3 separate regions of the Homo sapiens genome follow, and regions 2 and 3 are each linked to region 1. Evidence: fine-mapped expression QTL. A gene starts in region 1. Each other region holds a variant in brackets. All regions are shown on one strand. Distances are between the middles of the regions.

The links.
Region 2: its variant is fine-mapped to the expression of BLM in whole blood (TOPMed, PIP above 0.99). The same link has a PIP of 0.9 or more in blood mononuclear cells, lung and monocytes.
Region 3: its variant is fine-mapped to the expression of BLM in monocytes (Fairfax 2014, PIP 0.95).

What each region holds. Positions count from the first base shown.
Region 1 is chr15:90,714,597-90,719,951 of GRCh38, reverse strand. BLM (BLM RecQ like helicase) reads right to left here and starts at 2,606. Exons shown (of 22, transcript NM_000057.4): 1 at 2,512-2,606. CRTC3-AS1 (CRTC3 antisense RNA 1) reads left to right here and starts at 2,812. Exons shown (of 4, transcript NR_120372.1): 1 at 2,812-2,971.
Region 2 is chr15:90,806,782-90,811,781 of GRCh38, reverse strand. It overlaps BLM (BLM RecQ like helicase), which reads right to left. Exons shown (of 22, transcript NM_000057.4): 20 at 2,523-2,645; 21 at 376-577. Among named protein-coding and RNA genes, the nearest start is that of FURIN, 59 kb to the left of the region's middle. The variant C/T (reference allele first, on the strand shown) is at 3,082.
Region 3 is chr15:90,786,205-90,791,204 of GRCh38, reverse strand. It overlaps BLM (BLM RecQ like helicase), which reads right to left. Exons shown (of 22, transcript NM_000057.4): 15 at 361-556. Among named protein-coding and RNA genes, the nearest start is that of BLM, 71 kb to the right of the region's middle. The variant AC/C (reference allele first, on the strand shown) is at 2,733.

The sequences.
Region 1 (5,355 bases):
CTGAGGTAGAATAGTATGTGTTAGCGATACAGAATGCTCAAAAGCCTCTGGTATCATGCCAAGGAGTTTAGATTTTATCCTACAGGTAGTGGAGACCCTTAGGGGCTTTCAGCACTGAAGTCCTAGGATTATTCTACGATTATCTTGGACCTCTTTATTCTATCCATTTTTCTCTTAGAAAAAAACACATATATATGTAAATTAAAATATATATGTATATCTTTTAATTTTTAATATTTCTTACATAAAGATACAGAAAATAGAATTACACCCATGTACCCACCAACCAAATTTAAAAAGTTAAACTCGGCCCTATTCTCTCTCTTTTAAAGGCATAAAACATTTCAGGTAGATTGACTGACGGACTCTCACTCTGTCACCCAGGCTGGAGTGCAGTGGTGCAATCTTGACTAACTGCAGCCTCCTGGGTTCAAGCGATTCTCGTGCCTCAGCCTCCCCAGTAGCTAGAACCACAGGCGCACACCACCACGCCCAGATAATTTTGTATTTACTATAGAGAGGGAGTTTCGCCATGTTGGTGAGGCAAGTCTCGAACTCCTGGCCTCAGGTGATTCGCCCGCCTCATCCTCCCAAAGTGCTGGGATTATGGGTGTGAGCCACTGTGCCTGGCCTCATTTCAGATATATTTAAAATCTCACTCATGGCCGGGCGCGGTGGCTCGCCTGTAATCCCAGCACCTTGGGAGGCGGAGGCAGGCGGATCACGAGGTCAGGAGATCGAGACCATCCTGGCTAACACAGTGAAACCCCGTCTCTACTAAAAATACAAAAAATTAGCTGGGCGTGGTGGTGGGTGCCTGTAGTCCCAGCTATTTGGGAGGCTGAGGCAGGAGAATGGCATGAACCCGGGAGGCGGAGCTTGCAGTGAGCCAAGATCGCGCCACTGCACTCCAGCCTGGGCGACAGAGCGAGACTCCATCCCCCAAAAACAAAAACAAAAACAAACTCACTCATTCCAGGAATGACTATGAAAAAGGAAAAAACAGATAAAAATTTAAAAATCAAAACAATAAACTATCACTCATTCCCCTTACCTTTTTCCCTTCCCTTCCTGCTCATAGGTAATACCACCTGTCCTGAAGCGGATGTGTAGAACTTCCCAGCATGATGATGTTCTACTGCACATCTAACACTTTTCCTGATTTTTTAACTCTTGGTTTCCTCAGTAAAACGAAGGAAATAACTACTTCTCCAGGTTACTGATAGGACTGTAAACTATACTTATAAGGTACCTGTCATGGTGAGTGGCATTGAAAGTGACACAGGACCCAGAAATTTCATTTCTTCCCAGTAGATTATAAGCTACTGTCTGACAGTATAAGCAGCCCAGCTAACAAAATGTTGATTTAATTAATTCTATTTACTATTCCCCAAACAGAATACTTTTGCCTACCCGCTTCTTCATCTTCTGATCTCTCATGCAGTCTCTCGAATTCCTGTCCCTTAATCTTGACAGTGACACACCAGTGTTATTTATCTGCATGGGTGGCACAAGGAGCTGTCAGTCACCTGCTCCATCTCACGCCATGAGGTACCTAAAGTTCTGTGTGACCTAAGGACAGGTGAGGGCTATAGGAGAAAGCCTAATGTTGTGGGACATACTTTAAAATCAGGCGCTTAGTTCAAATCCTGTATCTCTAGCACTTAATCACCAAATGCTCTTTCTGTACGGAGACAACCTCTTTGTACTTCAGATTCTCCATGTCTAAAATGGGGACAATTTCATCCGCTTCTCTGGGTAATGATAACAGAACCCTTACTGTGTACTATGTAACAGGTAGCCTTCGAAGCATTTATTATTGCATATATTAAGTCGTTTAATCCTAACAAAAACGCCAGGAAGTAGAAGAGACCATTTCCCCCATATGACAGACGAAAACCAAGACACTTAGTGTTTCAGTAACGTGCAGTAGACACAGAGCTAAATGTGAAGGAGCCAGAATTCGAACCCAAGCAATCTGATGCAGTATTCTTAAGCACTTCGCTTTGCTGGGATATCGTAAAGCTACAGTTGTAAGATCAAGGGTGCCAGGAACATGGCACACAGTAGACACTCAAAAACAAGAGTAGCCCAGCTCGTGATTATGGAAGGCCACAGAAAAAGTACAAAGTGTTTTCGTTGTTCCTCAGGAGGGACACGGAGGTAGTAGTGCCAGAGGTCTGGGCTGGGATTACTCTGTGCAGGGCATCATGTTACGCACTGGAGTATATGGGCAACAACATGCCAGGTCCTAGCCCATGCTCGGCCTCCGACGCCCCGGGAGACCTTGGCAGAGTTCGCCCCCGCCCCGGGCCTCTGTTTCCCCATTTGGGAACGTATTTATGTATCTGCTGTCCTCCCAGGATGTTGGCCAGACTAGAGGACTCAGCGGGCCGAGGCGAACCAGTGCAGGAAACGGAAGAACCCGAGCGGCCTCCAGCTCCGGGCCGGGCCGCCAGAGCAGGGCTAGATCAATGCGGACCGACCCGTAGTTACGCGCGCGGTACTCACCTCGCACGCAGACTCCTAGCGGACGGAACCAGGATCCAAACTTCCCGCGCCGCAACCACGGCCGCCGCGCCAAGCCCTGGCTCACTTCCCGCCGGAAGCTTGCCTATTCCGATTGGCTGCTTCCTGGGGAAGCCGACCAATACTGTCGCACTCGGACATCTGTTCCCGCCCCCTCAGGCTGCTGGGGCGGGGTCGCCGTACAGCGCCGGGAGGGACGCGTATCTCCAAAGCCCAATCAGAGTCCGGACGGGAGGGTCAGATGACTACGGTTACATCTCGGGCTTCCGGAGCTAGTTGGGTCTTTGTTTTTGGTGTTTTAGAGTCGGTGAAGGCTTTAAAGGAAGTAGGCAGCTGGAACCCGGCTGTGGCGGGTTGAAAAGCCCGGGCGTTTGAGAGCTGAGACTTGCCAGTTCCCACAGGCCAAGCCAGGCGTCTGCACCCCATTCTCTTGGTTCCGACGGTGTGTCTCTGCGATGTTTTGGCGGTCTCTCCTCTCCATCCCCTTAATAATACTGGTCTCTGTTTCACCCGTACCCCTCTACACGAGCAGGTGCAAATTGTCATTGAACCGGGAAAGTGGGCACACACTCAGATGCCTCCATGGACACGTGAGAAACCATGCTTCTGTTTCAGCCTATTGCTGACACGCGGGAATGTGGGCCCTGTGATGCCAGATCTTACTTTCTTTCCTTTCTTCCTCTCTTCTCCCCTCTCTACTTCCTTCCCTCTCTCCTTCCCTCCCGCCCTCCCTCCTCTTTGTGTGTGTGATAAAATCTATCTAACATAAAATTCACCATTTTTAAGTGTACAGTTCACTGGCATTAAGTACATTCACATTGTTGTGAAACCATCACCACTATCCATCTCCAGAACTTTTTCATTATCCCAAATAGAAAATCTGCCTGTTACACAGTAACTCCCCGTTACCCGTTTCTCACAACCCCTTATAGCCGATATTGCACTTTCTGTCTGTAAGTGCGAGGTACCGCATATAAATTGAATCATACAATAATTGCTCTTTTCTGATTGGCTTATTTCACTTAGCATAATGTCTTCAAGGAGCATCTATGTTGTAGCATGTATCAGAATTTCTTCCTTCTTGAGGCTAAATAATATTCCATTATACATGTATACTACATTTTGTTTATCCATTCATCCATATAAATGGATGCTTGGTTATTCCCACCTTTTGGCTATTGTGAATAATGCTGCTATGAACTTTGGTATACAAATAATCATTCTCCACATAATACGCAGAAAGAGTTTTCTAAAATGTAAAAATCTGTTCAAGTTACCTCCCTCCTGAAAATCTTCTATGGTAAATTGAAACCAAAATATGATACTATTAAACACTCCATAGAATAGCTGAAATGAAAAGACTGACAATTCCCTTAGTTGCAAAGATGCAGAAATGGGACTCTCATACAGTGTTGATGGGAGTGTAAAATGGTACAACCACTTTGGAAACATCAGTCTCTACTGAAATCAAATTTACCCCTACCCTATACCCCAGAAATCCCATTTCTAGATATTTACCCCAAAAAATGAATGCCTTTATTCACCAAAAGACTCATAGCAGCTTTATTCATAATAGCCAAAGGGAAAAAACCCAGATGTCCACCAATAGATGAATAGATAAATTGCAGCTTATTCATATAACTGTATACTACTGTTGAAGAATAATTTTAATATCAAATATAATACAGATATAAAATAAATGTTAGAGATTTTATTTAACTCATTAATGAATGAGATATCCAGAAAGATTACAACTGCTTCAATGGAAAATTCAAAGTACCACACACATAGTCAAATGAGGAATAATGAAATAACTACAAATATATACAAAAACTGGCAGAACTGATGAAATCCACAGCTTAGTAATCAATTGCATTCTACTGAAAACAATTTGCATTTCTTTTTTTTTTTTTTTTTTTGAGACGGAGTCTCACTCAGCCGCCCAGGCTGGAGTGCAGTGGCGCAAGCTCGGCTCACCGCAACCACCATCTCCCAGGTTCAATAGAGTCTCCCGTCTCAGCCTCCCGAGTAGCTGGGATTACAGGCACCCGCCATCATGCCCAGCTAGCTTTTTGTATTTTAGTAGAGACAGGGTTTCACCGTGTTGGCCAGGCTGGTCTCGAACTCCTGACCTCAGGTGATCCGCCTGTCTTGGCCTCCCAAAGTGTTAGGATTACAGGCATGAGCCACCGTGCCCGGCCACAATTTGCATTTCTATAGACAAGAAGTGTCTATAGTTTGTATAGTTGTTCTGTAGCTCAAAGACAGTGAAAGGTTTAGAGTCTTCATAGAATCAGACATCCTAGAAAAGTAAGCTGGACAGCTGGGCACCTTGTTTTTCAATGACACCCAGTAATCATTTTTTTGTTGTTTGTCTTAGATGGAGTCTTGCTCTGTCACCCAGACTGGAGTACAGTGGTGTGATCTCAGCTCACTGCAACCTCCACTTCCCAGGTTCAAGCGATTTTCCTGCCCCAGCTTCCCGAGCAGCTGGGACTACAGGTACGTGCCACCACGCCTGGCTAATTTATTGTATTTTTAGTAGAGATGGGGTTTCACCATGTGGTCCAGGCTGGTCATGAACTTCTGACCTCAGGTGATCTGCCTGCCTTGGCCTCCCAAAGTACTGGGATTACAGGCTTGAGCCACCATGCCTGGCCCCAGTAATCTGTTTTAGACCATTTCAAAGCTTTTCTCAGTTTTTTTCTGTATTACAAAGTAATAGGAGGATGAACTACTGGTACATACAATATAGATGAAGCTCAGACACTATGCTGAGCACAAAAAGAGGTAGATAAAAGAGTATATAGGGCCGGGCGCAGTGGC
Region 2 (5,000 bases), 92 kb before region 1:
GGAGGCTGAGGTGGGAGGATCACTTGAGTACAGGAGGCAGAGGTTGCAGTGAGCCGAGATTGTGCCACTGCACTCTAGCCTGGGCAACAGAGTCAGACTTTGTCCTCAAATTAAAAAAAGAAAGAAAACTTTAGTCATAACTATTAGTCAGTAGATGTTTTAAACATCTGAAGCAAATATTTTTTGTTGTTTCTTGAAGCAAATATTTTTGTTTTGGATCAAACCTTAATTGTCACTCCATTAACAACTGTCATTCCATTAGCAATATTTAATAATGGCTTATTTTAATAAATCCTTCAAAGCAAGGCAGAGCTGTTGCACTTTTGTCCTTTCTTCCCTTGTTCCCTATATTGAAAAAGATGTCACAAAACATACCCCTTTGCCTTGGAACCACTGGAAGCAGTTTTTCTCCTCTTAGACCTTTGGGAGGCTGGCATCTTTTTCCTCTTCCTTTCATTTCTGGTTTTACTTGCAAAGTAGTGGGAAGATACGGGTATTTCCTCGTCGAGCTCCTCAGCGGCACTTCTTCCGGGGCCTCTGCTGCTGGACAGGCTTATCCCTGGGGAACTGTCTTCAGCTACAAATGGAAAATGCAGATGTTTACAGGTGATGTCGCACTGGTCCACGTGTTTTTAGTGTATATGAAGAGACACGCTGCAGGGGCCCATTTTAGCAGATACCTAGCTGCTTCCCTGCCATATGGATTCAACAATTCAGCAAGAACCAAACCTTTTTTTACTGCACAAAGCCCCAAAGTGTTCAATGGCAATTCATTTTTAACAAAAGAGAATCAGAATTCATTAAAAAAATTTGTGATAGTCTTGAAGTTAACTAGAGACATGAGGTTTAGCTCATACTGTCGCATATGGCCTGTGTTCCTGTTGTTGATTGGGCAGTTAGTTCTGGTAGGCAATTCAAAAAGTATCAACTGCTATAAAGATGGCAGGCAATTTTACTTATTTTAAATGTGCTGAAAAAATCAGCTCAATATAAGGGAAACAAACGGTCCTGTATCTCATCTTTGAACAATAGTTTCTTAGTAAATGAACATAAGAAAATTCTAGATCCTATTTTACTCTTTACAGACAAAAAAACTTGTCTTTGCACAATATGGCTGAACATGTCACATATTATGCGGGAGGTGAGACCGCATGAAAGCACACATTTGCAAAGAAGATGGTAATTTCCATAAGTATTTGCATCCCAAGGCACCCAAAAAGCATGAAACCTCCCTATAGATAGCTCACACGGGGACCCAGTCTCCATTTCCTGGCTGGTCTGCCTTGTCCTACAGGCCACCCTACAGGAGCAGCATGGAGGGCACAGGACTCCACCATGGCTGCTCCAACCCTGGCTCACTGTCAAAATGTATTCGGAACAAGGCTTTTAATGGACTAATTACCATATAGAAGAATTTAGGAGAACCTGACCAGGTGTGGTGGCTCATGCCTGTAACCCCAGCACTTCAGGAGGCTGAGGCAGGTGGATCACTTGAGGTCGTAAGTTCAAGACCAGCCTGGCCAACATAGTGAAACCCCAACTCTACCAAAAAAATACAAAAATAAGTCAGGTGTGGTGGTGCATGCCTGTAGTCTCAGCTACTGGGGAGGCTGAGGTGGGATAATTGCTTGAATCTGGGAGGCATAGTGAGCCAAGATTGTGCCACTGAACTCCAGCCTGGAGTGAGACTCTGTCAAAAAAAAAAAAAGCGACTAGGTAAAGAGAGAACTTGAACTATCTCATCCTGCTCATCATTTCCATCATCCTTGGGAAGACCCCCACACTGCCTGTCTGGAAGCAGGAAGAACACTGAACCGGGCCTGTCTGTTGTGTCCTATTACGTGGTGATGTTATCAGAGGGCAGAAGACTTCTGTGCTCTCAATATTTCCTACAACAAAATGCTTTGTTGTTCTCATTTCCCCCAGGTCAATGATTTCTAAAGCTGTAATGATGATGAAGCTCATGATTAGAAGTGCCACAGGACAGGCCTAACGTGACTCCGGGAACGTCTGATAATGATGCACTCAGGCAGGTTCTATCAATGACTAACAATAATAACATTCTAGCTGCATGCTCATTTCTCCAAAACATTTAAACACTAGTCTTAAATTTTATCTTTAGACATGTTTGTCAGATAACATGTTCCTTCCTTGGTGGAGGAACCTGATTCACAAAGAGGCTATTGGTGGCCTGCTAGAGACCACACAGCATGACGTGGTGGCAGATCTGGAACTGGTACCCAGGGCTCTGATCCCTTGAGCACTTGCATTACGGGAACCAGCAACCCCTGGGCCCAAAGGTCCCCTTTTGGATCCTATGAGTAAGTTCAGAACTGGCACTCACAGGGGGCATAAGCACTAGTGTCCTCTCAGAGGTGACTGGCACACCACTGGGGGCTGACTTGGATGTCAGTGTGACGAGGTGTAGGAAGCATTCACACAACTGCATCCTTCTAATTCAGTGAGACGCGTCGCTTCACATTAAACAGGCTTTTAGAGAACACACATGGCTGTGTACTAACCTGGCGATGTCCATTCAGAGTATTTCTGTAATACTGAAATCACTTCCGCACCATATTTTTCCAGTTTGTCTTCAGTAACACCATCAATTTGAAGCAAAACCTCAGGATCAGAAGATAAAGATTCTGTGCAAAGGCATAAAATTAGGAATTTAAATTATCACCCATAGAAAACCCACTGAATTCAGGCTCATTCACGCATTCAGCACACGTCTGCTAAGTGCCAACTAACTGCAGGGTACTGGGAACACAGGCCAATTTTGTAAAAGGCAAAGTTAGCACCTCAGAGGCAGCAGACAGGCACAGAGGGCAGGAACCCACCATCCAATTCCAGCGGCATAGGCCAGGGCAGAGCAAGGGCAAGAGCCAGGGCAGGAGGAAGCTGAGGGTGGGACCTGTGCCATGTGCGTGGAGTGGAGCAGATCTGCTCTTGCCCACTGTTCCCATGGCCAGTACTCATCTAGCTGAGACTGGTGTGCCCTCTCTTTACTGAGAACGCTGCATTTCTATTTCCAGCTCCAGCCTCTTCTCTGCACTCCAGACTTGTACACCCCACCCTAGA[C/T]GGCATAACCAAATTGTTACTTCCTCCAGCACAAACTTTTCTTCCTCCACTCTTTCCCCATGTGGGTTGAGGCAACAAGCAGCCAGCTGAGTCCTCTGCATAGAGGTCGCATATCAGTCTTGCAGCTAGACAAGCCTGTCATTTAAAGGCCACCCTGGCTGCTGTTTAAGAACTTGACTGTAAAGGAAAGAGTAGAATCCGGGAGCCTGGTGGAAGCCATTGCAGGAGCGAGTGAGGATGGAGTGAACTGGAATGCAGTAGTGGAGACACAGTGAAGCAAGCTTGGGTGAGTTTTGGAGGCTGGCTCTGTAGGACTGACTGATGCACTGGCTCTGGGTAGTGAGGGAGTAACCATTCCTATGTATTTGAGCTGAGCAAAGAGTGGATTTCAAATCCTTTCCCATCTGTGATTTTCACATCATTCCCATGTTTAGAGGAAAAGCAAGAGACTGTGGACAGAACAGAAGGTTTATGAAGGGGGTTTAATGAAAGATAAAGTAGGAGAGGCAGGAAGAAATGTAGACCCTTGATAAAATGTATACTTTATCTGGGAAGCTGTTGTAGTTTTACTAGGTTTTGAAAGATTAAAATGTACATCACATTCACAGCTGGAGGTAAGGAGGACAGTTAAGAAACTACACTAATCGCCTAGAAATAACATATCATAAAATACCAAATTTCATCAATTCTAAGACACACACCTTTTCACAATTTAGCATTCCTGAGGTCAAGATATGTCTTAGAACTGCTGATGGCTAAATGGCAGCTGCCTTGCGGTTGTTACTGCTCATGCTTGTGAGAACTTAGTCATAGCTATTAGTACTGTCAGCATGTCAACAAAGTCACTGCACTGTTTGTACCTCATGTATTGAGTCTAACTGCCATGACATGTCTTCAAAAAGACTATACTGTGATTAGCATTAAAAAAGTGATTGTGAATGCAGAAAAGTTCTGAAACAGAGTAGCAGGGAATACATTTGGTATTAAGAAAAGCACTATCTGGCTGAGCGTGGTAGCTCATGCCTGTAATCCCAATACTTTGGGAGGCTGAGACAGGGCGGATTGCTTCAGCCTAAGAGTATGAGACCAGTCTGGGTAACAGTGAGGCCCTGTCTCTGCAAAAAAATAAAAAAGCTAGCCAAGCATGGTGGTACATGCCTGTAGTTCCAGCTACTCAGGAAGCTGGGGTAGGAGGATCACTTGAGCCCAGGAGGTCTAGGCTGCAGTGAGCTGTGTTCAACCACTGCACCCAGCCTGGGCGACAGAATAAGATCTTATCTCCAAAAAAACAAAACAAAGCAAAACAAAAAAAACCCAGGCACTATTTGTCTCTGAGGACACAGGCCCCCAATTCCATAGTTTCTCGCAAGTACAACCAAGTGCTTTACGTGACCTAAGAAAGAAGATGCCCAAAGTAGATGAGGCCGCACTACATTTTTGTTACTGAGAGATGTACAACCTTCTGTTGACACCTTCTGGTATCATCAAGAAACCACCACCTTCAAAACAGAACTGATAACAGAGATTTCGATTAAATCCTGGGGAAAATAGTGGAACACTCTGGAAATGCCTTATGGCTAATGAGAATGTTAGTGATGACATAGGGAAAAACAAAGACATGGACGACTCAGTCAAAAAGTGACTCAGAAGAGTCAGGCTTTGAATGTGAACTTTTATAAGTACCTACGGTAATTTGATTATATGTATTTTTCATACAGGCACACAGCTGTGGATAATAAAAATCAATGTCTAAATCAGTAAAACACAATTTTTTCAATAAAAGCACTGTGTCATAGTTTAATTAGCAGAATTTTTTCTTCCTTAATAGTCCATAAAGTAACAGTATCTTAATATAGTTGGCATCTTAGAGTCAGTGAAATATTGTAATGACCGATTATCGTAGGAGAGGGAATGAAGAA
Region 3 (5,000 bases), 71 kb before region 1:
TCCTTTTTATCTTCCTGCATGTTTGAAATATGTGTTACATGCAAGAATGCATGCAGAAATAGGGTCTGAAAGGATACAAAGGAAACCAATAACTAGAGTTATTTTGGGGGCAAAACTACAAGGCATGGTTTGTAAATTTTCTGCCTTGTACACATCTGTATCATTTGAGTTTTACAAAATAAGCACTTACCACTTTTATAATAAAAATGAACTAAAATAAAATTGCCAATCTGTATAAACTCCTCTATTTTTCTACGATTATTTAAGGAAAACTGGACCAGAAGTACCACAATAGCAGGAGTAGACTACTATCATGAGGCTGAAGATGACAGAATGTCTCTACAATGGAGCCCAGCTTACTCATTATAAGTCTTTTCAGTCTGGTCACATCATGATAGGTATAGAAAAGCAGGCAGTGAGATATTTCCCCATCTCTTCCAGCTCTGCCAGATTCTTGGTAGTAACCCTCCACAGATTTAGGGAGAGATGCATGAATCACAAATCGCACGTCCGGTTTGTCAATCCCCATTCCAAATGCAATTGTAGCACAGATAACCTGATATAAAAGCAAAAGCTTATTAGATTCATAAGGCACAGACTTGAAGGAACATTTTCATAATAGATGCTTCTAAAAGCTCTATCATTTGTTTTACTTTAAAATGCACACTACATAACAACCTAATATCTTAACTTGGTCCAACTATTTAGTATAACTAATATGAGTTTTTATACTGATAACTTGCAATGCCATTAAAACCCAAGAAGGTAAAGAGAAGCTCAGCATGGCAGGCACTTTCTTGTATGACTTGGCATTCTCATGTAAGAGAGCCAGAATCAACTGCAGTCAGCCCACGATGTGCTGCCACTGTTCTCTGTTTTTGCTACTGAGGTGTGGGGGGTGTTGCTCACACAGTCATGATATCCAGGTCAGTGATCACAAGCAACGTGTTGCTCAGGAGCTCCAGGGTGTTCCCAGGGCTCCTCAGAGGTCACTGCTGCTAGTTCCTCCAATGGTTCAGGAACAATACGTTCTTACCTGCTCCACTGCTTATCATCAGTTTTCCCAATAGCACCAGCTGATCACACATCAACTCCTTCTATTCATCAGCTGATTTAAAGTCAAAGCTTGTACAATTTTAATGGAAACTCATGTGGGTAAAAGTCTGAGAGCTACTTATACCAAAAAAAAAAAAAAAAAAAAAAAAAAAAAAAAAAAACACCAGGGACTGCGGATCTTAGACCTTACAAATTACTTAGTGGAAGCAAGGTGATAGTTCACTCTCAGGAGCTTGATAAATCAGTTTTCAAGGATATCCATTTCAGTTGAGAATTTAGGAGCTATTTAACCCAGACCAAAATGTTATATCTCCAGGCAAAATTACACTTCACAAATAAAACTGCAAGTTTTTTTTTAGCACTTAAAAAAATGAATTGCTACTGCAAGAACAGTATTTCAAAGGCATCTGAAATATCTGGCAGGCAGACTGAGACTAATGACATGATTTCAGTAACTGTGAGTACCAGCGGAAGGAACTGCAAGCTCTGGAGTATGTGGACAGTAAAGGGGTACATTTATCAACACCAGGAATGGCGGTGAGTGGCCTGCGCTCTCGGTTAGTCATCCATCTACATTTATGGCACTCTGATCAAAGGCAAATCTCCTTGGAAACAGAAAGACTATTGTAGCTTCTAGTGATGGAGAGCAGGTGGAGAAGCTGCACAGCAAGATGTGTCAGCCGACAGGTCCGGAAGCATGACCCACAGGGTTCCATGAAGTCCAGGTGCATCTCCCAGTATCAGGGCGGGCACAGGGCTGTGAGGCACCGCCTGCAGCCTCCAGATGAGGATGCAAGGCTGCCAACTCTTTCTGAAAGCTCTTATTTCTTGAAATTGGGAAAAGTGGCTTTGTTTAATTGTGATTTCCTTCTTTATTTCTGCGCTTTTAAAACTTCAAGCCACAATCATTCTTTGTGAAGAATAATGGCCAAGTTTTATTCTATCTCATGAATCTAACGAGATCAAGTCTGTCGAGCTGGTGTAGGCTAATATTACATGCTGACTGTAAGGATTAATTAGTCTGAGAGCAGAAATAATTAGGTTTTTATAAACCCCTATTGTTTAACCATATTTTTTATCAAAGTTATATATATATATATATATATCTCCATTGTAGATTATTTATACTATACATAACCATTTAAAGCACTTGAAAAAAATCATTTTTTTTTTTTTTTGAGACAGTCTCGGTCTGTTGCCCAGGCTGGAATGCAGTGGCGTGATTTTGGCTCACTGCAACCTCCACCTCCAGGGTTCAAGCTATTCTCCTGCCTCAGACTCCCGAGAAGCTGGGACTACAGGTGTGCACCAGCATGCCAGGCTAATTTTTGTATTTTTTGTAGAGATGGGGTTTCGCCATGTTGCCTGGGCTGGTCTTGAACTCCTAGGCTCAAGTGATCTTCCCACCTTGGCCTCCCAAAGTGCTGGGATTACAGGTGTGAACCACCATGCCTGGCCCTTTCATGCAAACTTTTTCCTTATCATGTATTGTTTTTACATGTTTTCCTGTTCCACTGATCTGCCTATAATGTACTGCAAACTAGTGTTCCTGTATTATTAGGTTTTTTGCCAAACTCTCTTAGTTATTTTCACTTGAATATTCTTCCAGGCAAACTTTAGAAAAAGTTTATCAAAGGGAAAAGAACAAAAAACCAAAAAAAAAAAAAAAAAAAAAA[AC/C]AAAACACTGGCATTTGGGTTAAATATATAAACTAATTTGGGAAGACTAAAATCAGTATTTCAGTGAAGACAAATGAGTGATGTATTTCTAAACTTTTTGCATATCTGAAAATGACCTTTTGTTGGTTTCAACATAAATGACAGTGAGCTGGGTACGAAATTCTTCAGTCCCAGTCTTCCTTCTTCCAATTCTGAAGACAGTCTTCTATTATTTTTGTTATATATTTGTTATGTATTTATTTATAACACACTTATCTGTTTCAATTATCCTGCTTTCTTGCTTGGGTACACTTACTATTCTTAGGCTGAATCCTTACCTCCTTTTGTCAACAAAGATAATTTCCACCCCACCCCATTTTAATCTCTTTTTTCCCTTGCATTCTCAAGCTACTCACTACATCACTGATTCTATTGTCTCCACTGAGACTGAGTCATTCCATTTGTGTCTTAATATATAATTCTGCTCTTAGTTTTGTTTTTCTTACTTGGATAAGCTGAATTTTTCTTTCTTTTTTTTTTTTTGACATAGAGTCTTGTTCTGTTTCCCAGGCTGGAGTACAGTGGCACGATCTCGGCTCACTGCAACCTTCGGCTCCCAGGTTCAAGTGATTCCCCTGCCTCAGCCTCCTGAGTAGCTGGGACTACAGATGCCCATCACCACGTCCGGCTAATTTTTGTATTTTTAGTAGAGACAGGGTTTCACCATATTGGCCAGGCTGGTCTCAAACTCCTTGATCTCAGGTGATCCGTCCACATCGGCCTCTCAAAGTGGTGGGATTACAGGGGTGAGCCACTGCACCTGGCCATAAACTGGATTTTTATTTCTCCCTTCATCTCACCCTGTGATCTTATGGAAGTTGTTACTAGTTCACGTATATTAAGTCTTCTTATATCTTTCTCGGGATACTAAACTGATATCCTCTAAAATTTTCTGTTTTCCCAGAGAAAACAATTTTGAGAGATATTTTTCCTCTGAATCTTCAAAGTAAATACTTTTTCCTGAGCTGAAACTTTTCATTGGCTCCAAGTAATTATTAGTTGTTTTGCTGAAATTCATCCTTTCATTTAGAGGGATCTATCCAAGGCTGGCATTTACCACAATAAGAGATGCCTAAAGTAGGCTGGGTGCGGTGGCTCACGCCTGTAATCCCAGCATTTTGGGAGGCCGAGGCGGGCGGATCACGAGGTCAGGAGATCGAGACCCTCCTGGCTAACGTGGTGAAACCCTCGTCTCTACTAAACATACAAAAAAAAATTAGCCGGGCGTGGTGGCGGGTGCCTATAGTCCCAGCTACTCGGGAGGCTGAGGCAGGAGAATGGCGTGAACCCGAGAGGCGGAGCTTGCAGTGAGCTGAGATCGCGCCACTGCACTCCAGCCTGGGCGACAGAGTGAGACTCCCGTCTCAAAAAAAAAAAAAAAAAAAAAAAAAAAAAAGAGATGCCTAAAGTATTTTCAGCTTTCCTCCCCACCCACCTGGGTGACGGCAAATTTCTCATCTCGGAAACAGATGCCCAATATTGTTAGTTACTAGGGAAATGCAAATCAAAACCACAAAGAGGGCCAGGCGTGGTGGCTCACACCTGTCATCCCAGCACTTTGGGGGGCTGAGGTGGGCGGATCATGAGGTCAGGAGTTCACGACCAGCCTGGCCAATATGGTGAAACCCTGTCTCTACTAAAAATACAAAAATAAGCTGGGTGTGGTGGCATGTGCCTATAGTCCCGGCTACTTGGGAGGCTGAGGCAGGAGAATTGCTTGAACCAGGAGGCGGAAGTTCCAGTGAGCCAAGATTGCGCCACTGCACTCCAGCCTGGGTGACGTGAATTCCTTGCTTGAATTATTCACGTGTGTGGTCTTCCATGTAAATAAAAAAAAACCCACAAAGAGATACCATTTCCCACACACAAGGATGAATACATTAAAAAAGCTGGACAATAAAAAATATTGGTGAAGACGTGGAGACACTGGCACCTCATACATTGCTGGTGAGAATGCAGAACTGCAGAGCCACTTTGAAAAGCAGTTTCACAGTTCCTCTAAAAGTTAAACAAAGAGTTGCCATTTGACCCAGCAAGTCCACTCCCAGGTGTCTACCCAAGAGAACTGAAAACATATGTCCGTGGAAAAACTTGTACGTGAATGCTCACAAAGCCATTATTCATAGTAGCCAAGAAGTAGAAACACATCGGGGATGGTGGCTCACACCTATAATCGCAGGAATTTGGTAGGTTGAGGCAGGATTATCACTTGAGCCCAGGAGTTCAAG